Linked DNA regions of Homo sapiens. The protein of the gene in region 1 purifies or fractionates together with the protein of each later gene. This does not show direct contact. Each region holds a gene or a part of one and is shown in the gene's direction. Other genes may lie near its edges.

Region 1 (7,243 bases):
AGAAAGTGAAGAGGAGGCAAGAACCTTCTTCACATGGTGGCAAGAGAGAGAAGTGCAAGCAGGGGAAATGCTAGACGCTTATAAAACCATCAGATCTCATGAGAACTCACTCACTATCATGAGAACAGCATGGAGGAAACTGCCCCCATGACCCAATCACCTCCCTCCATGAACACATGGGGATTACAATTTGAGATGAGATTTGGATGGGGACACAGAGCCAAACTGCCAAATCATATCAGAGTAGTTAGTTGTCATTCAGGTAAAATCTCAATCCCTCAGTCTCTGTTGCATACCACATTCTATTCTCACCATATTCAGCCAAATTAACATCCCACAACTTCTAAAAGCAAACTGTGTTTTGGTGAGCTTAGTTTCTTGTATGTTTTGATGCATGGGCTCTGGAGTATTGTAAAGAAAAAGTTTAGGATTCTGACTCAACCAATTATCAACAGTATGAGAAGAGCTTTTTGGGCTTCAGCTTCATATTTAAGTGGGCTCAGAACTAATGTGAGATTAAGTTATGTGTAACAAACAACAAAGCTTAAAATACAGTTGGCACTTAATGAATATCAGTTCTCCAGCCATCCCTCCATGTTTTTGCTTATCCTGGGAAATCTTTCTGTGACATCATTGTCCGCTTCTCCACCTTGCAATACTTTATCTACCCTTCTGGGCCAGTTTTATCCAGACTCCTTCACAAAGGTTTCCATAGAACAGAGAGCTTACTATGCATCTTACACAGTTTGGGTGTCTTTTATTTTAATGTTTCAGTCATGTTTCATGAGCCAAACTGTAAGGTTCAGGAATGTTTGTCTTAATGCTTGGCACTTGAATGCACCCAATAAATAGTTGTTGAATGTATAAATAAACAAAAGGTACACGGGATGGGAAATACTGGAAAATTGGACATATATTGTAATAAGACTAGCTAACAATTTGCATTTAAAAATTAGCCAAATTATTGTGCTTGGGACACAAAATTTGTGACCAATGTGAATTTGTTTAGTAAATGTAGCCATATATATCTTGCGTTGTACCATTGAATATTCTAATAGTTCAATATACCATTGGAATATACCAGCGGAAAATATCATTACAAATAGTTTGACATACTGTATTTCTTCAATTTTAAGAATAATTTGGTACCACATTTTAATTTCTTTGAAACTGGGATGTGTCTTACTATCAAATAAACATCCAGTGGCCAGGTGATAGTGATGATATAGTTGGCATTGCCTATTTTTGAACATGGGCATAAATGAATTGTTATCATTTCTACTAAATTCTATGAAATTTAGTCCTGTTGTGTCAAAGCCATATGCCAAGAAACATAGTTGAAGGCAGGAGAAATTACCAGATATGACAGATTAGGTGAAAGAAATTCTAAAGCAAAGAGAGGTTGATATAACCAATTCATGTATCATGCAGGACTATGGTTAAGGCATGAAACTACCATTTGTGAGAAACTTTCTCCTGGCCATTAATAGAGAAGCTGCATAGCTTGTAGTGACATACAATTCAGTTGAACAAGAAAACTATGTGTTTAGTCAAATGGGATAGTGCCAGCATCACAACTGCAGAATGAGTGTCATTGTCTAGGAGGCAAATCCCAGAAACAAGATTGGAACATCCTTTTAAGAAATGGTGCACTATCAACAATATTGTGTGGAAAAACACACATGAATGCTTTTCATGAAAAGGTATTCAGAAGAATCAGGCTCAATGTTCGGGACTTTGGTAAATTCATTTTGCTTATATTTTCCTTTCCTACATACACACAGTACTAAGCAAATCTATGTATAAGTGTCTAAAAGCACTAAGTATAAAGTAAAAATTCGATATGACATAACATATTGTCATAGTTTTATTAGCAGCTCTTTTCCTTTCTTTTGAGTGGAACATATAATTGAAGATAGGTTAGATTTGAATAGATAACAATAAATTGAATAGGCACTAGGTCTGTGAGTTTGTAAACTTCCCTCAGTGAAGGACCAGAGCTTGGTGTTTTGTTGTTGTTTTGGTAGGTATTTTGTTGTCTGTTGGAAATGAGGTAAGAAGATCCTATGAAGTCGTCACAAATATTGGTTATACTTGTTTGTAGAAGCAACATAATTTCAAGAAAAGCCACCTTCTCACATCACCTTTTACAGCTTCTTAACATAGGTCACAGGTTGCATTTTGAATTAGGTGAATACTCCATTTGTCAGTCGGTAACCACTTCTGAAATTAATTTATTATATTTCCCCAATATAACAGCAATACATGTTGGTATAGAAAACACCTTATATTAAAAAAAAAGTCTATGTACCTACATGTGAGTATGTAATCAGCCATGTCTTCCACCCAATGTGGAAAATTTCTTTCTTAAAAATTTTCTTAGGCCAGGAGCGGTGGCTCACACCTGCAATTCCCAGCACTTTGGGAGGCCAAGGTGGGTGGATCACCTGAAATTGGGAGTTCGAGACCACCCTGACCAACATGGAGAAACCCTGTCTCTACTAAAAATACAAAATTAGCCGCGCGTGGTGGTACATGCCTGTAATCCCAGCTACTCGGGAGGCTGAGGCAGGAGAATTGCTTGAACCCTGAAGGCGGAGGTTGCGGTGAGCCGAGATCGCATCATTGGACTCCAGCCTGGGCAACAAGAGCAAAACTCCGTCTAAAAAAAAAAAAGTTTCTTATACATTTTTCGATGCCGTTTCTTTTTTTCTTTGTTTATGAAAATGTCTCAGATCAAAGTAATATATCTTCATTGTCCAGGATATTTCGTTAAGTATAGAAAAATATAAAGCAGCATGAAACATACTATCCTTCATCTCACCACCCAGAGATCACATCTTAATATTTTTGGCCATTGCATTCAATCTAGGGCAAAAACAGGCAGCATAACTTGCACACAGTGGATGCTCACTGCATCCCTGCTGAATGCATGAATGCAGAAAGAGAACTTGGAGAAGGGCCCATTTGTCTTGCTAATAGAATCAATTATACAGCTCTTATGGTCTAAAATTATTTGTCTTCTCAAGTTTGCCTCATTATTGTCACACAGCAGGAGCCTGGCCAAGACACAGCCATCTTTCTACTATTTGACAACCAAGCACTTTGGAAGGAATGGTCACTGTTTTCACTTCATTCCTGTCATTCATTCTCTCACTCATTAAATAAATATTAAGTGCCCACCATGTGCCGGAAATACGGAGAAGAAAAAAAAACATGACCCCTGCCCTCATGCAAATTACTGTGTAAAGACAAAAGACAATAAACATAAACACATAAATATATATATATACAAAATTTTATAAGTGCAAAAATAGAAGAGAACAAGTGGCTGGGAAAATAAACGGGGCAATGGTATAATTAAGGAGGGGACAGGGAAGGCCTTTCTGACGCAGTGACAAGTCGGGTCAAGAAGGAACGAAAGGGAAGGTTATGAGGCTGTCAAACTTTGAGTGTGGCCAAAAAAATAATGAAGAAAGTGATGGAGGAAAGACTAGGCTGAAGAAGTAGGGCAGTAGTGAAGTGTCTTGTAAGCCATGCTAAGGATTTTGAGTTTTATTCTATGTACTGTTGGAAACCAATACTTTTTTTGTAGTGTAAATTGAGCTTATTTTTCACAGATAGGTTTCAAGATGCAAAGCATACAAGGACCAAAAATAATTATATGAAAACTCTCCCTCCCTCCGGTTTCCTAGCCACCCAGTTTCCCTCTTCAGAGCTGCCAGTCTTTCCTACGGAAAGACTCTAGGCACAAACAAGCCCATCTATCTGTTTATATTATAATGCATTTTCAGCACTGGGACGAGCCCATCTGATTTAAGACCACCTGAATGCTGAGAGGGCATGACTCTGCGTTAGAACTCTGCGCTACTGCCCACGCATCTCACAAAGTCTACTACGCCGCGCGTTCTCGGTTTCAACGCACCTCCAGGATTCAGGGCTTCCTAAGCTGCAATTCAGCAGGGCTCCCTTGCTTGTTCTCACTCTGTGCCCCCGGCAACGACCCCGCGCGCCTACACTCCCGTGCCGCCTCAGCTACTAGTCCGCAACTTCTAGCCCCAAAACGCTGGAGCTCAGAACCCAGCTCAGGTGCGCTCGTCGGTTTCCCAGGGAGACTGGGGCTGATTGTAGGCACGCGGGGGCGGGAAGACAGCTTCTTGCTTCTGGCTGCGATGGAGGCGGATCTGGGCGGGGCCGAAACGGGGGCGGGGCCAAGTGTGGGGGCGTAGTCAGGCGTGGGGGCGGGCCGGCGCCGGCGCCGCGGTCGGCGGCAGCGCTCTCCTAAGCTCTCGCGGCTGCGCTTCGGTCCCGGACCCGGGCCACCCACGGGGTAGTGGGTGCTCCTCGGCCCCGGACATTGCAAGCCCCAGAAGGTAAATTTGCGTGGGAGCCGCGCACCTGGAGCGCGAGGGTACCCATGATGAGGGCGGGAGGCTGGATGGCGACAGAAGGGAGCGTCCCGCGGCGAGTTTCCCAAGAAAGCTGAACTCGTCCCAAGTTTCTTGTGCCTCGGCTTGCACTCAGTGAATGGGTGGCGGGCTCATTTGCTGCGGGTGGTCTTTTGGCGCGGGAGGGACGCGGAGGTGATTGGATTAATCCGCCTGGGCGGCAGCCCAGATTTCTGCCGGGAACCGCGCACCGCAGTGGTGCAGTTTTTGCCCGAGAAAGGGCGGGTAAGTGCGGTGCAGTCGTGTCCTGCGCAGCAGCAGGGGGACCGCCGGTCTGGGAGCACGCGAGTCGGCCAGGCGTCCCCGGTTGTCCAGAGGCACAGTTTCCTAACTTCTTTCCTCTTTAGGCAAGACTAACTCGGTGTTGCTCCTCCCGGCGCTGACTTCGAGGCCCGGCTATGGACGGCGAGAGCGAGGTGGATTTTTCTAGCAACAGCATAACCCCTTTGTGGCGGAGGCGGTCGATTCCTCAGCCCCACCAGGTTCTGGGCCGGAGCAAGCCGAGGCCCCAGTCCTACCAGAGCCCCAACGGGTTACTAATTACGGATTTCCCGGTGGAGGACGGAGGGACGCTCCTCGCAGCGCAGATTCCCGCCCAGGTGCCCACCGCCTCGGACAGCAGGACGGTACATAGGAGCCCCCTGCTTCTGGGCGCCCAGCGGAGAGCGGTGGCCAATGGTGGGACGGCATCCCCGGAGTACAGGGCTGCCTCTCCTCGACTTCGACGGCCCAAGTCACCCAAGCTCCCCAAAGCGGTGCCTGGCGGCTCCCCGAAATCCCCAGCAAATGGCGCGGTGACCTTGCCTGCGCCGCCGCCGCCGCCGGTTCTGCGCCCCCCGCGGACTCCTAACGCGCCCGCCCCCTGCACCCCCGAGGAGGACCTTACTGGGTTGACTGCCAGCCCGGTGCCTTCGCCCACTGCAAATGGCCTTGCCGCTAATAACGACTCTCCTGGGTCAGGTTCGCAGTCCGGCCGGAAGGCAAAGGACCCCGAACGGGGGCTCTTTCCTGGGCCCCAGAAAAGTTCTTCGGAACAAAAACTCCCCCTCCAAAGGCTGCCCTCCCAGGAGAACGAGCTCCTCGAGAATCCTTCCGTGGTTTTGAGTACAAACAGCCCCGCCGCCCTCAAAGTGGGGAAGCAGCAGATCATTCCGAAGAGTCTGGCCTCGGAAATTAAAATAAGTAAATCCAACAATCAAAATGTGGAGCCCCACAAGAGACTCCTCAAGGTGCGCAGCATGGTGGAGGGCCTAGGAGGACCCCTGGGTCACGCAGGGGAGGAGAGTGAGGTCGATAACGACGTGGATAGCCCAGGGTCTCTGCGGAGAGGCTTGCGGTCCACGTCTTATCGCAGGGCAGTGGTCAGTGGCTTTGATTTTGACAGTCCTACCAGCTCGAAGAAGAAGAACAGAATGTCCCAGCCTGTTCTGAAAGTGGTGATGGAAGACAAGGAGAAGTTTTCCAGTCTGGGAAGGATAAAGGTAAAAGTGGGCAGGAGTGTGGCACGCCATTCACTAAGCGGAAAGTAAATGTGTTGGGAGTGGGGAGGAGGAGCGTAGAGGAAACCCGAAGAAGTCATTCCGTTTTAATTCTGTGTTTTGCTCTTGATTGCTAGTGTACATCCAGCTCTTGGCCACTTTGATGCTGGCAGGCACAGCCGAGTTTAGTGCAACTTTGTGGGAAGAAGTGAAATTCATCACTTTTAAATTTCTAAGCTCAGGCAGAATTGGGGGGGACAAGAGTGAAATATGGCAGATTATTGGCTGAGTGAGTCTTTACCACTTTTAAAAGAGATAGCTGAAAGGGGGAGGAGCATGTTCAGAACCGCACTCTGCAGTCAAGTTGTCTGGAGTTTGCTTAGAGGTTTCAGTCAATGATAGCTGTTATCACAGCTGATTCAGAAAAATACTGATTCCTGTTTGAGCCTGTTGATTATTTTTTGCTTTTACTTACTGAATTTTGAGTGGTTACTACGCACTTGATGTCATTCAGGTAGAATGTGAATTTGAAAATCAGTTGCCAGGATCACAAAAGACATAAATATTTTGTCATCTTTTTTGTTGCTTGTTTTTGTCACCGTGGCCTTTGGTTGTGTTTTATTCCCGTTGTATGCCCATTCATCCTTGAGTGCATGTAACAGATTGGCAGCTGAAAACTTAAGGTTAGGGTGGACACTGTGTGGTATTGCTCCCCTATATTGTCCCATTAGCTGCACTTATTAAAATATTGTCAAATATGACATAAAGAAACAGGGAAAACTGAAGAGGGGTATTTTGGAGTGTGTGCTTCCTTCCACAGAAACAACACAGGTTTCAGCAATAAGGCAGATTCTTTTTGGCAGCCACATTTTTTCTTGGTTAATCAGAGCACTGGAACCAGTCTATATAAATGGCACATATGCAAAACACAAGCAAGCCTGTTTTATTTTAGAGCCCGTGGTCTTAAAGAAAATAAATTACATAACATTTTATGTGTTTTTTCCAACTCTGCAAGTATAGCAAAGTTCAATTTAACAGTGATGGTGAATCACGAGTTGTAAAATGAGCTGACCTGCTAGTTATTTGAGGATTCTCAATCTGTTTTGACAGGGTGTGGGGGATCTTGTACATTTTATTTCATTGTTTCAGTGAATTGTAGTGATCAAATGAGTGAACTCCTCCAGGGCTCAGCTTCTGTGCGCTCTTGGAAATCTAATTAATGTAATGACTAAAAAAAAGTATTTTTACTTAAAATAGCTGTATTTTCTATTTGGCTCATTCATACATAGTTTGCTTTTCCTTTTTTTTTTTTTTTTT
Region 2 (7,000 bases), on another chromosome or scaffold:
AGCCTTATGTACAGTAATTCAGCTTTACCCCATTTGATCTTTACTGCAAGTTGAGGATCAAGTGGTATTTAAAGCATGATGTATCTATTGCCACATCTGTCTAGTGCTGAATCAGGCAATAATGCTTAAACATTTCATTGCTACCAGTTGTTAATGAGGCAAAACATGAGAAAGATGGTTAACTATGCATGCAACCAGTTTCTTAGAGATCATTGTTATTACTATAATCAACCGTTTATATAAAACAGCAAAGTCTTTTTTTCTCATAAAAAAGATACAGTCTGTGGCACTTGTTGTGCCTTTCTTACAAACTGTTTGTTAACTGCCAGTCACTCCCTAGTAGTTAACAATCAATCTGTTACCAATCTAAGTTCAAAACATTGTCAGATGTGTTTATGATTTTGGTCTGTTGCCCATAGCTGGGACTTCCCTCTCATTCTCTGGTTTTTAAAATGGCAGGATGTCAAAGTGTACGGCAAAGGAAACCCCACAAAAGTGGTAGCTGTAGACTGTGGGATTAAAAACAATGTAATCCGCCTGCTAGTAAAGGTAAGTAATTTGTTCATTTCAAAGGTGAGGGTTTGTCATATTGACCATTAGTGTTCAGCTAATTTCCTCTGTCACAGAGAAACTTATGCATTCTTTCAGAATGTCAGGGGTCTACATTCTTCTTGTTGCTTTTGATTTACAAAATAACACATTTATCCCTGTTCAAATTAAAAATATAGACTGCTATGTTTTTTCTTTAAAAAAAAAACCTCAAGGGCCACTAAAACATGGAAGAAAATGATGACTGTTCTTGTCATTAATTGACTGACAGTCTGAGATGCATCATGTTCACTTTCTTTGTGGTATAGAGATGACCAAAAAGCTAGAGTCTGTCTGATAGCATCTCCTTTGGGCTTACATTTATTTTGTACCACACGTTTGTAGGAATCATGCCCTGACAGAGTACGAACTTTCACATTGTTTTTATATCAACTCTTAGACAACCAGTTAAAATTAAACCTTAAAAATTCTCAAGGAGAACTTAACCATCATAATAATGTTTCTTAAATAAAGTTTTGTTAGGATTTTTCCTTCTCCTCACTCCTCTCTCAGTCTGTCTCTGTCTACACATCTCCCCTCCATACACATACACACACATACACACATATTTGCATAACACCAAATTAGCATGCGTATTGGGAGACTCTTCATCGTACCTCCTTATTAGAGAATACCAGCAATATTCAAATCATGATTTCAAATTCTTGTCAATTTTATTAACAAACATTTGCATGGATAGCATGCATGGTAGCAGATGCTGTGGATGGCCTGTGTATATCTCAATCTCAAGTTACCATTTTAATTCATGTTGCCCATCTTCCAATTGCAAATATCTATATCTCTTTGCCTGATGGCTGGAGCCTACTGGCAGGCAGTAAATGGCATAGAATTAATGATCTCTGGAGTAGCCCCCAACCAAAGCACAGAAAAAGCCAGTGTTTAACCACCCTGGCTCCTTTGTCCCATGGATAGGCAGTCTCTAAGGTAACTATTCCACACGGGCTCTCAGAGTTCCCTACTGGGCTTAAACTTCACTTATCCCTAGTGGTAACTACTTGCTAATGCATAATTTATTGGGGTGTTTCATGATGTCACTTCCTCTCTGTTTAGTATGGAAGTACCTTCCAAATAAGCTTTTGTTCTCTTAAATCCTTGTTTCAGGAAATGCTTCATGGGAAACCCTCAAAGACACCTTCCTATGTGCTTTTATATTAAAAGAAATTTCTAAGTTTTCCATTCGAATATAAATCTTACAGAAAATGAGAAAACCCTAGGAAAGAAGGCTGATTAAAATTTGATAAGACTAAAAGGCAAGACTGAAAAAGGTCTGACGTGGGCCAACTTAACATTTTCAGAAAATGGATTTATATCTTTTTGCAACTGGTCGTGTGAAGGTAACCTACTCTCCTGTCAGTCCAGTCATGGCATTTGTAGGCACTGAAACTTCTCTTGAGTGCAGGAGAGTGCATTATCCATTTTTTCAGGATCAAAACTTTTAATGGTGTTTATTTTTATTTTTATTTTTATTTTGAGACAGGGTCTTACTTTGTTGTCCAGCCTAGAGTGCAATGGTGTGATCTTGGCTCGCTGGAACCTGTGACTCCTGGACTCGGGTGATCCTCCCACCTCAGTTTTCTGGGTAGCTGGGACCATACCTGGCTAATTTTTGTTTTATCTTTTTTGGTAGAGATAGGGTTTTGCCCTGTTTCCCAGGCTAGTCTTGACTTCCTGGGCTCAAGCAATTCCCCCCTATCTTGAGCTTCCCTATGTGCTAGGATCACCGGCATGAGCCACCAAGCCCGGCCCCAAAGAAATTTTTGCTCAGCATTATTTATTTTAAATGTTTACAAATTTTTCCTTCCCTTTAAGGAATGGTTAGTCAAGAGAAAGTCTAGCAAAATTATACTTTGGCAAAGAAACATGTTATTAAATTCATCATTCTTGTGTCTCTTTTCCAGCGAGGAGCTGAAGTGCACTTAGTTCCCTGGAACCATGATTTCACCAAGATGGAGTATGATGGGATTTTGATCGCGGGAGGACCGGGGAACCCAGCTCTTGCAGAACCACTAATTCAGAATGTCAGAAAGGTGCAATGAACCTTGAATTCATGTGTATCTGTGTGGGAGGTGGGGGCTTCCGCTCTATACCCTCAAAGGGCTGTGATACATTTTATTTATTCAGGCATTTTTCAATGCTGGTATTTGTGACTTCTGAGGCAGTGTCAGTAGAGATATTCTGTAGGGGAACCAATGAGGAGAGAATATCAGAGAAAATAGGGTTTTTCTTCAGGCAAAGTAACTTGGGGATCATGTCCTTGAGTTAAAAGAACTGGAGTCCAATGGCCAAATGTATTTTGCTTTACAGTTTTAAACCGACAACTCATGGTTCCTTATCATGACCTTGGGACCCATAAGACCTGCAGGTCTCTAAAGAAATATTAAATTAGATTTAGTTTAGTTTGAATGTAAAGTACATCTTAATGAATTATAATGCTACAAATTTGTCAATTATGTCCTTTTTTATATTCTTCTTTAATTCAGTTACTATTCTCTTTACCTTCTTAAGAAAAAAGGATACCTCATTTTTGTTCATTCAGAAGCAACATTTTTTGGAACTGTACTAATTGGTTAATAAAAATTCTCCCTGATTTAGATTTTGGAGAGTGATCGCAAGGAGCCATTGTTTGGAATCAGTACAGGAAACTTAATAACAGGATTGGCTGCTGGTGCCAAAACCTACAAGATGTCCATGGCCAACAGGTGAGGTATTTTCACTTTTGCTTACAGTAAACCAGCTCTGACATACTAACTAAATACAAAGAACTCAGAGCACTTACCTGCCATTTCTTTAGAGTAAATAAATGCACATGTACCCTAAAACTTAAAGTATAATAAAAATAAATAAATAAATAAATAAATAAATAAAATAAAAAATAAAATAAATAACCATACCTTACGTGGTTGACAGTTGTTTGACTACCTGATACCACTTTTGTTGCATTTTTGGAAAGCAGCCTTCTCTAATGATAACCTTGCTATAATTTAAAGTTATTTTCCTTCCCTTGGCATAAATTGAGGTTATAATACTCAATCAAATGATATTCCAAGGGAAATTGTTCTGATTTTAAGCTTGATTTCAGAACATTGTAACATTTTAAGAAGGTAAGTGTGACTTAAGAGCCGAGGAACCTTTAGATCCTCTTGGTTTCTCTTTTTTGCCTCAAACAATATTAATTTATTAAACATCAGGCTTTTTCCCATGGCCCACCCTCTACATAAATTATAATTCAGGTCTGAGCAGTCATCTCTTTGTTATCTCCCTATAACTCTCGGGCTTTAAAATTATTGTAGTTCTCTTAAAGTAAGTCACTTATATTTCTTAGTTTCTGTTAAGCCGGTGAGCAACCCTTTTTGTTATGAGTGCAATGCCCCCCTTTCTAAAACCGATTATAGAATTTAATAGACCTGCGTATTTAACACACAACAAAGCTTCCTGAATTGATTTTTGTTGGGAAAATTACTGGGATTAACAATCTGTGACTTTTCTCACAGAGTGATTTTCACTAAGCAATTGAAATTTTGAATTTTAATAGGCTTTACTTGTTCACTACTTTATAAGGAATACATTTATATTATTCTCTTCACTTTTCCTTTTCCCTATTCTTTTTCTCCTTTTCTCTCCAGAGGGCAGAATCAGCCTGTTTTGAATATCACAAACAAACAGGCTTTCATTACTGCTCAGAATCATGGCTATGCCTTGGACAACACCCTCCCTGCTGGCTGGAAACCACTTTTTGTGAATGTCAACGATCAAACAAATGAGGTAAATGATGTCAATAAACCTGTTCAGTTGGTGATGAGAAACGCAGGGCTTTTAAAAATAATTGATACATAAGCATTGTATATATTTATGAGATACATGTGATATTTTGATACATGCATATCATATGTAATGATCAAATCACACTAGGATAACCATCACCTCATTTTTTATTTCTTTGTATTGAGAACATTTCAAATCTTCTCTTCTAGCTGTTTTGAAATATGCAATAAATTATTCACTCAGAATATTCACCCAGAGTTTTTAAATACACTATGATGCAAATACCTTTCTCCTGTTTGTTTGTGATTTTTTTGGGGTTGAGTGTTGAAAAACAGCTATAGGTTTTCTCCCATAGCCCTCTGTGTTTTAAAACGTCATTTCTCTCTCTTATTCTCTCATCAGTTGACTTGTTAAGATTCACTATTTGAGTTATTAATCAACAACTATCTCATATATTCAATGTTAGTGGGCTGTTGGTCCAAATCTGTTTGAGCCCCATCTGGGTGGGTCTCTGGGACTTACTTGGCACTGGTGTAGTGTTTGAGAAGACCCTTGGAAAAGTAATTTCGGACTTGGGGATAAGATGAGGACTTGAGTTTACTCTGAACAGAACCCAGAGGGGTCCCAAAGACTATAGACCAAATTTTTTATTTATTTATTTATTTTAAAGGAAAACACATTCAGTTGAGTCTTCATTGACCCATTTTCCATACTTAATCAAAAAGGTCAGATATGTAAGTCCTTAAGATATCGGACCATGTTACTTAATAGTACTGTTAGTTACAAAAATTTTGTTAAGCATCTAACTCAGTTTTTAAATTTGAGCTTTATTGTTCCCTGAATAATACATAGCCACACTTGACATTCATTGTTACAGAAGGAATTTCTTCCTGTTTCTTATTCCTTTAGGGGATTATGCATGAGAGCAAACCCTTCTTCGCTGTGCAGTTCCACCCAGAGGTCACCCCGGGGCCAATAGACACTGAGGTACGTCAAAAAGATGAGGCCTATTATGTATGCAAAAAAAAAATGTATTTGTGTGGAAATTCGAGAAACCAAAATAATCACCCCAGATGATCTTGAGCAGAACATTCTCAAGAAGAGTGCTTTGGTAACACACATTTTGTATTAAAATCTCCCCATGAATGTCACAGAGGAAATTTTTATCTTTTTTAAAATTTAAAGTGGGAAAGCCCTTAAGAAACCCGAAGCGATGGTATTTTTATTTAAACCCATTATCATTCTAATATATTTAGTTCTGAAATTTACAATTGTTGTACTATGCAAATGAATTCCCTTTTGCTCTCTCTCGTTCTCATGACTGAAATGAAATTTTAATCCCCCATCTGTGACTTCACAAAAATCCCTATGGCAACTGGTTGTGTAGCCACTAAGGGAGAATAAACAGCAGCAGGAGAAGGAGGGGAAGGGTGTTGGAGGGGAGAGAGGGCATGCATGCACATACATAGATGATTCAGACGGCTTCAGAAAAGAACCACAAGGAATGCTTAGAGGAGTTTTGTATTTAATCTAAATATTTTTACTTTTTTGTGTGTGAGCTCTTAGTTCATTGTTCAAACCCATCTTTCCAAATAAATTCTTCTGGTGATATCCAGAAAAATCTGAAGTCTATTGTGACTTCCCCACACCCAGGGGCCTCCAGTAGCAAATCTTCATTGTCAGAACTCTCAGAAAAGACTTCGAGGTAAAATGGGGAAGAGAATAAGAGCTTTCTTTCTGCAAGCTCTGCTCTACTCTCTCATGTCTGAATTGCCGTTTTAGATATTTATATTTTGTTCTTGTTTTAATATTATTAGGAAATATTGGTTCTTAATAGCCAAAATCAGTATTATATTACCAACCCATGATGAAACTCATAAATCAAATTTAGTTATGTGTATCATCTAACACATGCTAAGTAGTTTTTTAATTTAAAATTTAAATTAGCATATATTAGTACTTCGGATTAGGAACATTGCAATTAAGATGTAATAATATCCACTGTCACATAATTCTCCTTTTTTGTCTTTCCAATAATTGCAAAATGAATATTCTTTGTTGTAATTTGTCATATCTAGTGAAACAACAGAAGTAAATCCTTTGGCAAAGATTAAGAATAATCTTCAGAAACTGTTTTTTAGAGCCGATAGAAATTTAAATTTAAATTAGTATTTCTAATTTTCTATATCATAAGTGATATAGCTTCAATTGTTATATCCACCTAGAATTTGATTTAGAAGAAACAAATGATATACAATTTACTAAAAACTTGGCATTCTCAGAAGGTATCTGATATGTTTACTGCTTGTTGGAAACTTCTTTTTTATAAGACTTGAAGTGAACAGAAGTGTTTATTTGATTAAATTCTCACACTAACAGATATTTAGTTATTGACAAAAAAGCAAAAAAAGCTGAAATGCTATAATAAAAATTATTTGTTGCTTATCTGAAGTTCAAATTTAACTGGGTATATTGTGTTTTATCTGGTGAACTTAGGAATTTTGAAGCTTCTAACTAGTTGGTTGTATTTTTTTCTAGTACCTGTTTGATTCCTTTTTCTCACTGATAAAGAAAGGAAAAGCTACCACCATTACATCAGTCTTACCGAAGCCAGCACTAGTTGCATCTC
Region 3 (7,000 bases), on another chromosome or scaffold:
AGTATATCTTATATTAGGCTTTTAAACTGCTTTATGTATCATGTTTCAGTTTTCCTAAATGACTGATACATTTCAGTATTTTGCATATCAGTGTTAATTTTGAGTTGGTAGAGGCAGCCTAACAAACTCTGATTGTTTTGCTATTAGGGGATATTTCCTTCAATAAAACCAATGAATTGAAAGAGAAAATACACCTCACTTTACTGTCCATGTGTTTTCATTTCACAATAAGCCAGTAACTTCATCACCATAGCCATCTTTGGGAATCACTAGTAGACAGAATGATAAGTAGGCAAATTGCTGTTCCTGTTATTTAAGCACAGGGACTATTTGGTTCTTCCTAATGGCGTTCCTGGTATCTGGGCATGGCTCACTGGTCGATTCCTACCTTTTAGTGACTGTAGCCCCCATATATGGCTGGCCCTTGGACAGATCTGTGTTTCACTCTTATATAATTATTTGTTGTAAAATGCAGAAGAAAATTTAAAAAATAGAACCTTTTCATTTTATCCTAGGGGAGAAAAATGCAGTTGTTCAAACTAAGGGTAGAATTAAATCAGGGCCAATACAGTGTTAGCACAGGTGTTATCATTGTGACCAGAAAACAGGAATTCTTGGGGCAGCTTCTGCTTCCCCATTTTGAATCTATTATTGTTATTTAAAATAATTATATTTGTATTTTACTTAAAGATTTAGTTGTTATTTTACTTAAAAGTAGAGTTACCATTGATATACTTGGCATTAGTAAACCCATTGATTCTGATTTGTCAGTCGCTTCTGATTATTGGTTTTGGGGGAGGAAATTAATGATCTAGTAATCAGTTCATTAGCTTGTAAAGCTAATTAACCTCTTCCATATACTGTCAGCCTTACACTGACCCTGCTTTCTCCCCAGGCTGCCTATTCCCAAACTTGAAGACACCATTAGGAGATACCTCAGTGCACAGAAGCCTCTCTTGAATGATGGCCAGTTCAGGTAAACACTGAGAACCTTGGGTGAGCATAGTTGGGGTGGTTCAAGACAGGCTGGCAAGTAGTGGTGGACCAAGCTTCAGGGAATGTCTGTGACGTGGCTGGGTCTCCAGGAACCCAGAACCTAGTTGTACATCTGCAAGTTCAGGAAATAGATTTTCATTCATGAAGGACTGACCAAGCCCCGAGAGTTCCTCTAAACAGGCTCAACAGGAGATAGTTTATAAGCCAGAATGCCAAATGTGTACTTTCCCTTAGCAGGTGTACCTGGGAGGCTCGCTGGTCCTGGTCATTTATAGAGAGCATGTACCCTTGGAAGGGAGGTCCATTGAGGAGACCATACGGCAGACCAGAAGTCTGCATCGTGAGCATGTTTATTGAGTTGGATAGCATGCCTCCAAAATTTATGCCCTTTTTCATGAAATTTAGTATATGATCTTATTTGGAATTAGGGTTGTGGCAGATGTAATTAGTTAAGATGAGGTCCTACTGGAGTATTGTGGGTCCTTAATTAAATATGACTGGTGTCCTTGTAAGAAGACACAGAGACAGCGGTGTGAGGACACAGGCAGAGATTGTGTCCTCTGCCTGTGTCAACAAGCCAAGGCATGCCAGGGATTGCTGGCAACACCAGAATCTAAGAGAAAGCCATGCAACAGATTCTTCCCCAGTCTTCAGAGAAGATATAGTCCTACTGACACCTGGATTTTGTCCTTAAAGCTTCCAGAACTGTGAGAGAATAAATTTCTGTTGTTTTCAGCCACCCAGTTTGTGGTGTTTTGTTATAGCAGTCCTAGGAAGCAAATACAGCATGGAATTGGAAAATAATATCAAATATTGTCAAAAAGTGGATTGCATTAAGCTCTTATAGCCTAGTGTAGTACTCTTTTTCCATAATGGAAATTTTTCTGTACAGGTAACTGGCATTGTTGTTGGAATCACAGAACTCTTCACTGGACAGTGATGGAGAAGCAGATGAATTATCCATAATCTAGGCCTCTGTTTTCAAATATTTGTTATTAGTCATTTAAAGTTTCTCTTGATATGGTAATAGCTACCAGTTATTGAGTATTATGTTTTAGGATATTCTAAATCCTTAGCTTTATAAATATTTTTAATCTTGTAAAGTGGTATTATTATCCATTTTACACATCAAGAAACCGAGACTCAGATCAAGTAACTTATCCAAGATCACACAGTTTGAAAAGCAACAGAGCTAGGATTCAGACTTAACTTCTGTTGACTCCAGAGCTTGTGTCCTTTTCTCCATGCCAAACTGCCTCCTAGGATATGGATTATTTTGTGAGATGTTGATTGATTTTCCTAATCATTCATTTTAAGAAGGTAGTCTAGATTATCAATTTTAGATTGATTCCTGTTCTGGTTAGAGGTACTTTCTGATCTCATTCCAGGTTTTAGGGCTATGCTGTTGGGGACCCAAAACTCTATTATGAGTTCCTCGCCATGAACCTAAAAATCATGTATTCCCTACCATGGTTTGATTTTGTCTTTTCTTGAATGTTTTAGGAAAACAGAACAATTTTGCAAGAGTTTTGAAAATGGGATTGGAAAAGAACTGCATGAGCAGCTGGTTGCTCTGGACAAACAGAATAAACATACAAGCTACATTTCGGGTAGGTAGGCTGGGCTGTGGGTATGATTTCTCCCAGAGCCCTCCATAATGAAAAGTAAGGCATATTCTCTCCTGTTTTGGTCTCAGAGATATTTTTGGTGAGACCAGCAAATGAAGTAACGTCTCATCCTCCCTTCCTGAGGTAAATTAAGGCTGAGTGTGTTCCTCCTCTACTGAGGTGTTGACTTGAGCCCATGCTCAAGAATGATGGCCAGCCTTCTCTGTAGATGGGATTGAGGCAGAACCTAATCAATGGTCCTGTCTGAAAAGGATGCAGGATTAAGTCCTATGTCCTATATCATTCTGGGTCCTTCACTGTCAGACAGAACTGTCCTCTCCAGCCTCTTCTCTCACCACCCACCCTGACATACTTCCTGCTAAACTCCTCATTGCTCCCTGAACCCTTAGTCTTTCATTCTTTTGTGCCTTTATCCATGCTGTTCCCACTACCATTTTTTTGCCTGGCAAATTCTTCTTTTAAGATCCAAGGAGGATGGTTTTCTGTGAAACCTTCTCAGTCCTTTTTCCTTTCCATTCAGAGTTGGTTGCTTCCACCTCTGTTCCTACAGCACTTCTTTTAATTTAGTTTATATATTTACCAAGGTTATACATGCATATAGTTTAAAGAATCAGACAGTTCTATAAGGCTTGTTAGGAAAAACAGCAACTTCCTCATCATCTTATTTCCCACTTCTCACTTTCAGCTCCTAAATCTTTTGTTATATACCCCCGTATCTCTAAATTAGATACTTACCTTACTGCATCTTGATTTTTTTGCTTTAGTCATTAGCTATTGACATCTCACTGTAGAAGATTAGAATTCAGCAGTACTTTACATCCCACCACATATGTGGGATGTGTATACACATACTTCCTATCCCCTTATTTTCACAGCATAGGGATTTGTAATTTTGGGTAACTCAGTATCTAGTTTTATGCTATTATGATCATAGAAACACTATTGTCAGCTGACTCATGTAGCATATTGGGATTGTTTTTCCTTTCCAGTACAAACTTTTTGTTTTCTCTGAAGTTAATAATTGTTCCATCTTTTCTCTTGTTTAGTTTTCTATGTGCTTACTAATTTACCCCCAGACTCTTCCCAAGCTGTCTGAATCTCCTCTCAATACATGAAAGCAGATTGGACATTCTATCCCTTTTGGTCTTCTTGACGAAACTTCTTCCAGAACTTGCGACATGCTGTAGTCTGGATTTGTGAACCTCTTGGCCTACTGTGAAGCTGCTCTCCTGTGCTCTTTCACCATCAGCTGGGGCATCTGTCATCTCTCTCTCATGTTGGGACTCGTGTTTCTTGTCTTTCATATTTTCTTATTTCTTGGCTTTTTCTTTTTCTTTTTTTTTTTTTTTAAATCAGAGCACATATTCCCTGTACTATCTGGAAACAGAATATGGGAAGCAAAAATTTTAAAATGGCCCTTATACTTCATTGATAATTTGTTTGGCTGGGTTTGAAATTATTTTCCCACAGAATTTTGGAGGCTTTGCTCCATTGTCTTTTAGCATCCAGTGTTGCTGTTGGTAAATCTAATGTTATTCTGAGACTTAATCTTTTGACTACTTCTTCTCTCTGCCTTTGGAAGCTTTTTAGAATTTTCTCTTTGTCCCCAGTGTTTTGAAATTTCAGGTAATGTGTTTTAGTATGTGTTGGGCCACTCTGTGAGTCCTTTGAATCTGGAATCTCATCCTTCAGGTCTGGGATATTTCCTTGTTTTATTTCTTTGGCTTTCTTCCTCTCCATTTTTTTTCTCTGTTTTTTCTTTGTGGAACTCTATTATTATTCAGGTGTAGAATTTCTGGGTCTCATCCTCTAATTTTCTTTTCTCTCACATTTTTCATCTCTTACTCTTTTTGTTACATTTTCTTGGGAGACTTACTTAATTTTAATCTCTCAACCTGTTTTTAAAACTCCTGCTTTCCTATTTTTTACTTCCACAAGCTCTTTTTTCTTCTTATGGTGTTCTTTTTAAAAATAGTTTATCTCTGATAATTTTTTTTTAAGATCTCTTCTCTCTTCATAGTCTGTTGCCTCCAAGTTGCTTTTCTTCTGTTTGCTTTGCCCTTTTCTTTCTTCAGATGCTTCATAATCCTGTGTTGTCTTCGATATGAGTGAGATATTAAAAAGCTCTTGGAAGCTATGTGGATGGGGGTGAGGCTTGTCAGTTACAGGCTTTGCTCTAATGTGATTGATATGGTTTGGCTCTATGTCCCCACCCAAATCTCATCTTGAATTGTAATCCCCACGTGTTGAAGGAGGGACCTGGAGGGAGGTGATTGGATCATGGGGGCAGTTTTCCCCATGCTGTTCTCATGATAGTTAGTGGTTTCTCACGAGCTCTGATAGTTAAAAAGTGTTCAGCAGTTCCCCCACTTGTTCGCTTTCTCTCCTGCTGCCACATAAGATGTGCCTTGCTTCCCCTTCACCTTGCGCTGTGATTGTAAGTTTCCTGAGGCCTCCCCAGCCACAAGGAACTGTCAGTCAATTAGACCTCTTTTCTTTATAAATTACCCAGTCTCAGGTGGTTCTTTATAGCAGTGTGAAAATGGACTAATATAGAAAACTGGTACCAGGAGGGGGGCATTGCTACAAAGATACCTGAAAATGTGGAAACAACTTTGGAACTGGTTAATAGGCAGAGGTTGGAACAGTTTGGAGGGGTCAGAAGAAGACAGGAAGATGTCAGACAGTTTGGAACTTCTTAGAGAGTTGAATGGTTTTGACCAAAATGCTGATAGAGATATGGACAATGAAGTCCAGGCTGAGGTGGTCTCAGATGGAGATGAGGAACTTATTGGGAACTGGAGCAAAGGTCACTCTACTGTGCTTTAGCAGAGAGACTGGTGGCATTTTGTCCCTGTCCTAGAGATCTGCAGAACTTTGAACTTGAGAGGGGTGATTTAGGGTGTCTGACAGAAGAAACTTCTAAGCAACAAAGCATTCAAGATGGCTTTTTCTGAAAGCATATGGTCATATGCATTCACAGAGAGATGATGTGAAAGTGGGACTTATGTTTAAAAGGGAAGCAGAGCATAAAAGTTTGGACAATTTGCAGCCTGACCATGCAGTAGAAAAGAAAAACCCATTTTCTGGGGAGAAATTCAAGCCACAAGCTGCAGAAATTTGCATAAGTAATGAGAAGCCAAATGTTAATAGCCAAGACAATGGGGAGAATGTCTTGAGGGCATTTCAGAGATCTTTACAGTAGCCCCTCCCAGCATAGGCCCAGAGGCCTAAGAGGGAAAAATGGTTTCCTGGGCCCTGCTGTTCTGTGCAGCCTCGGGACATGGTGCCCTGTGTCCCAGGCACTCCAGCTCCAGCCATGGCTAAAAGGGGCCAAGGCACAGCTCTGGCCATTGCTTCAGAGGGTGCAAGCCCCAAGCATTGGAGGCTTCCCCATGGTGTTGGGCATGCAGGTGTGCAGAAAACAAGAGTTGAGGTTTGAAAACCTCGTCCGGCCGGGTGCGGTGGCTCACGCCTGTAATCCCAGCACTTTGGGAGGCCAAGGCGGGTGGATCACAAGGTCAGGAGATCGAGACCATCCTGGCTAACATGGTGAAACCCTGTCTGTATTAAAAATACAAAAAAAATTAGCCGGGTGTGGTGGCGTGCACCTGTGTCCCAGCTGCTGGGGAGGCTGAGGCAGGAGAATAGCGTGAACCCAGGAGGCAGAGCTTGCAGTGAGCCAAGATAGCACCACTGCACTCCAGTCTGGGTGACAGAGCAAGACTCCATTTCAAAAAAAAAAAAAAAAAAAAAGAGACAACCTCCTCCTACATTTCAGAGGCTATATGGAAACACCTGGATGTCCAGGCAGAAGTCTGCTGCAGGGGTGAAGCCCTCATGGAGATCCTCTACTAGGGCAATGCAGATGGGAAATATGGGGTTAGAGCCCCCACACAGAGTTCCCAATGGGGAGCCTAGTGGAACTGTGAGAAGAGGGCCACTGCCCTTCAGACCCCAGAATGGTAGATCCACCGACAGTTTGCACCATGTGCCTGGAAAAGCCACAGGCATTCAATGCCAGCCTGTAAAAGCAACCATGGGGCTGTACTCTGCAGAGCCACAGGGGCAGGGCTACCAAAGGCCTTGGGAGCCCACTTCTTACATCAGCATGCCCTGGATGTGAGACATGGAGTCAAAGATTATTTTGGAGCTTTAAGATTTAATGGCTGCCCTGCTGGATTTCAGGCTTGCGTGGGGCCTGTAGCCCCTCTGTTTTGGCCAATTTCTCCCTTTTGGAATGGGAGCATTTACCCAATGCTTGTAACACCAGTGTATCTTGAAAATAACTAATTGGTTTTTGATTTTACAGACTCATAGGCAGAAGGAACTTGCCTTTACTCAGATGAGACTTTGGCTTGTAATTTTGAGTTAAT

The links.
Region 2: the proteins of ARHGEF26 (region 1) and CPS1 purify together in Homo sapiens (affinity purification with mass spectrometry; 3 studies listed by BioGRID and IntAct, with this or other methods). This does not show direct contact.
Region 3: the proteins of ARHGEF26 (region 1) and CPT2 purify together in Homo sapiens (affinity purification with mass spectrometry; 2 studies listed by BioGRID and IntAct, with this or other methods). This does not show direct contact.

The regions. Positions count from the first base shown.
Region 1 is NC_000003.12:154,117,147-154,124,389, forward strand, and holds the start of ARHGEF26 (rho guanine nucleotide exchange factor 26), read left to right. Parts: upstream 1-4,243; 5' UTR 4,244-4,373; intron 4,374-4,795; 5' UTR 4,796-4,846; coding exon 4,847-5,929; intron 5,930-7,243. UniProt on the Homo sapiens protein: Activates RhoG GTPase by promoting the exchange of GDP by GTP. Required for the formation of membrane ruffles during macropinocytosis. Required for the formation of cup-like structures during trans-endothelial migration of leukocytes.
Region 2 is NC_000002.12:210,587,599-210,594,598, forward strand, and holds part of CPS1 (carbamoyl-phosphate synthase [ammonia], mitochondrial isoform b precursor), read left to right. Parts: intron 1-459; coding exon 460-549; intron 550-2,507; coding exon 2,508-2,636; intron 2,637-3,201; coding exon 3,202-3,308; intron 3,309-4,232; coding exon 4,233-4,371; intron 4,372-5,280; coding exon 5,281-5,358; intron 5,359-5,756; exon of another isoform or gene 5,757-6,076; intron 6,077-6,909; coding exon 6,910-7,000. UniProt on the Homo sapiens protein: Involved in the urea cycle of ureotelic animals where the enzyme plays an important role in removing excess ammonia from the cell.
Region 3 is NC_000001.11:53,199,824-53,206,823, forward strand, and holds part of CPT2 (carnitine O-palmitoyltransferase 2, mitochondrial isoform 1 precursor), read left to right. Parts: intron 1-895; coding exon 896-976; intron 977-2,499; coding exon 2,500-2,606; intron 2,607-7,000. UniProt on the Homo sapiens protein: Involved in the intramitochondrial synthesis of acylcarnitines from accumulated acyl-CoA metabolites.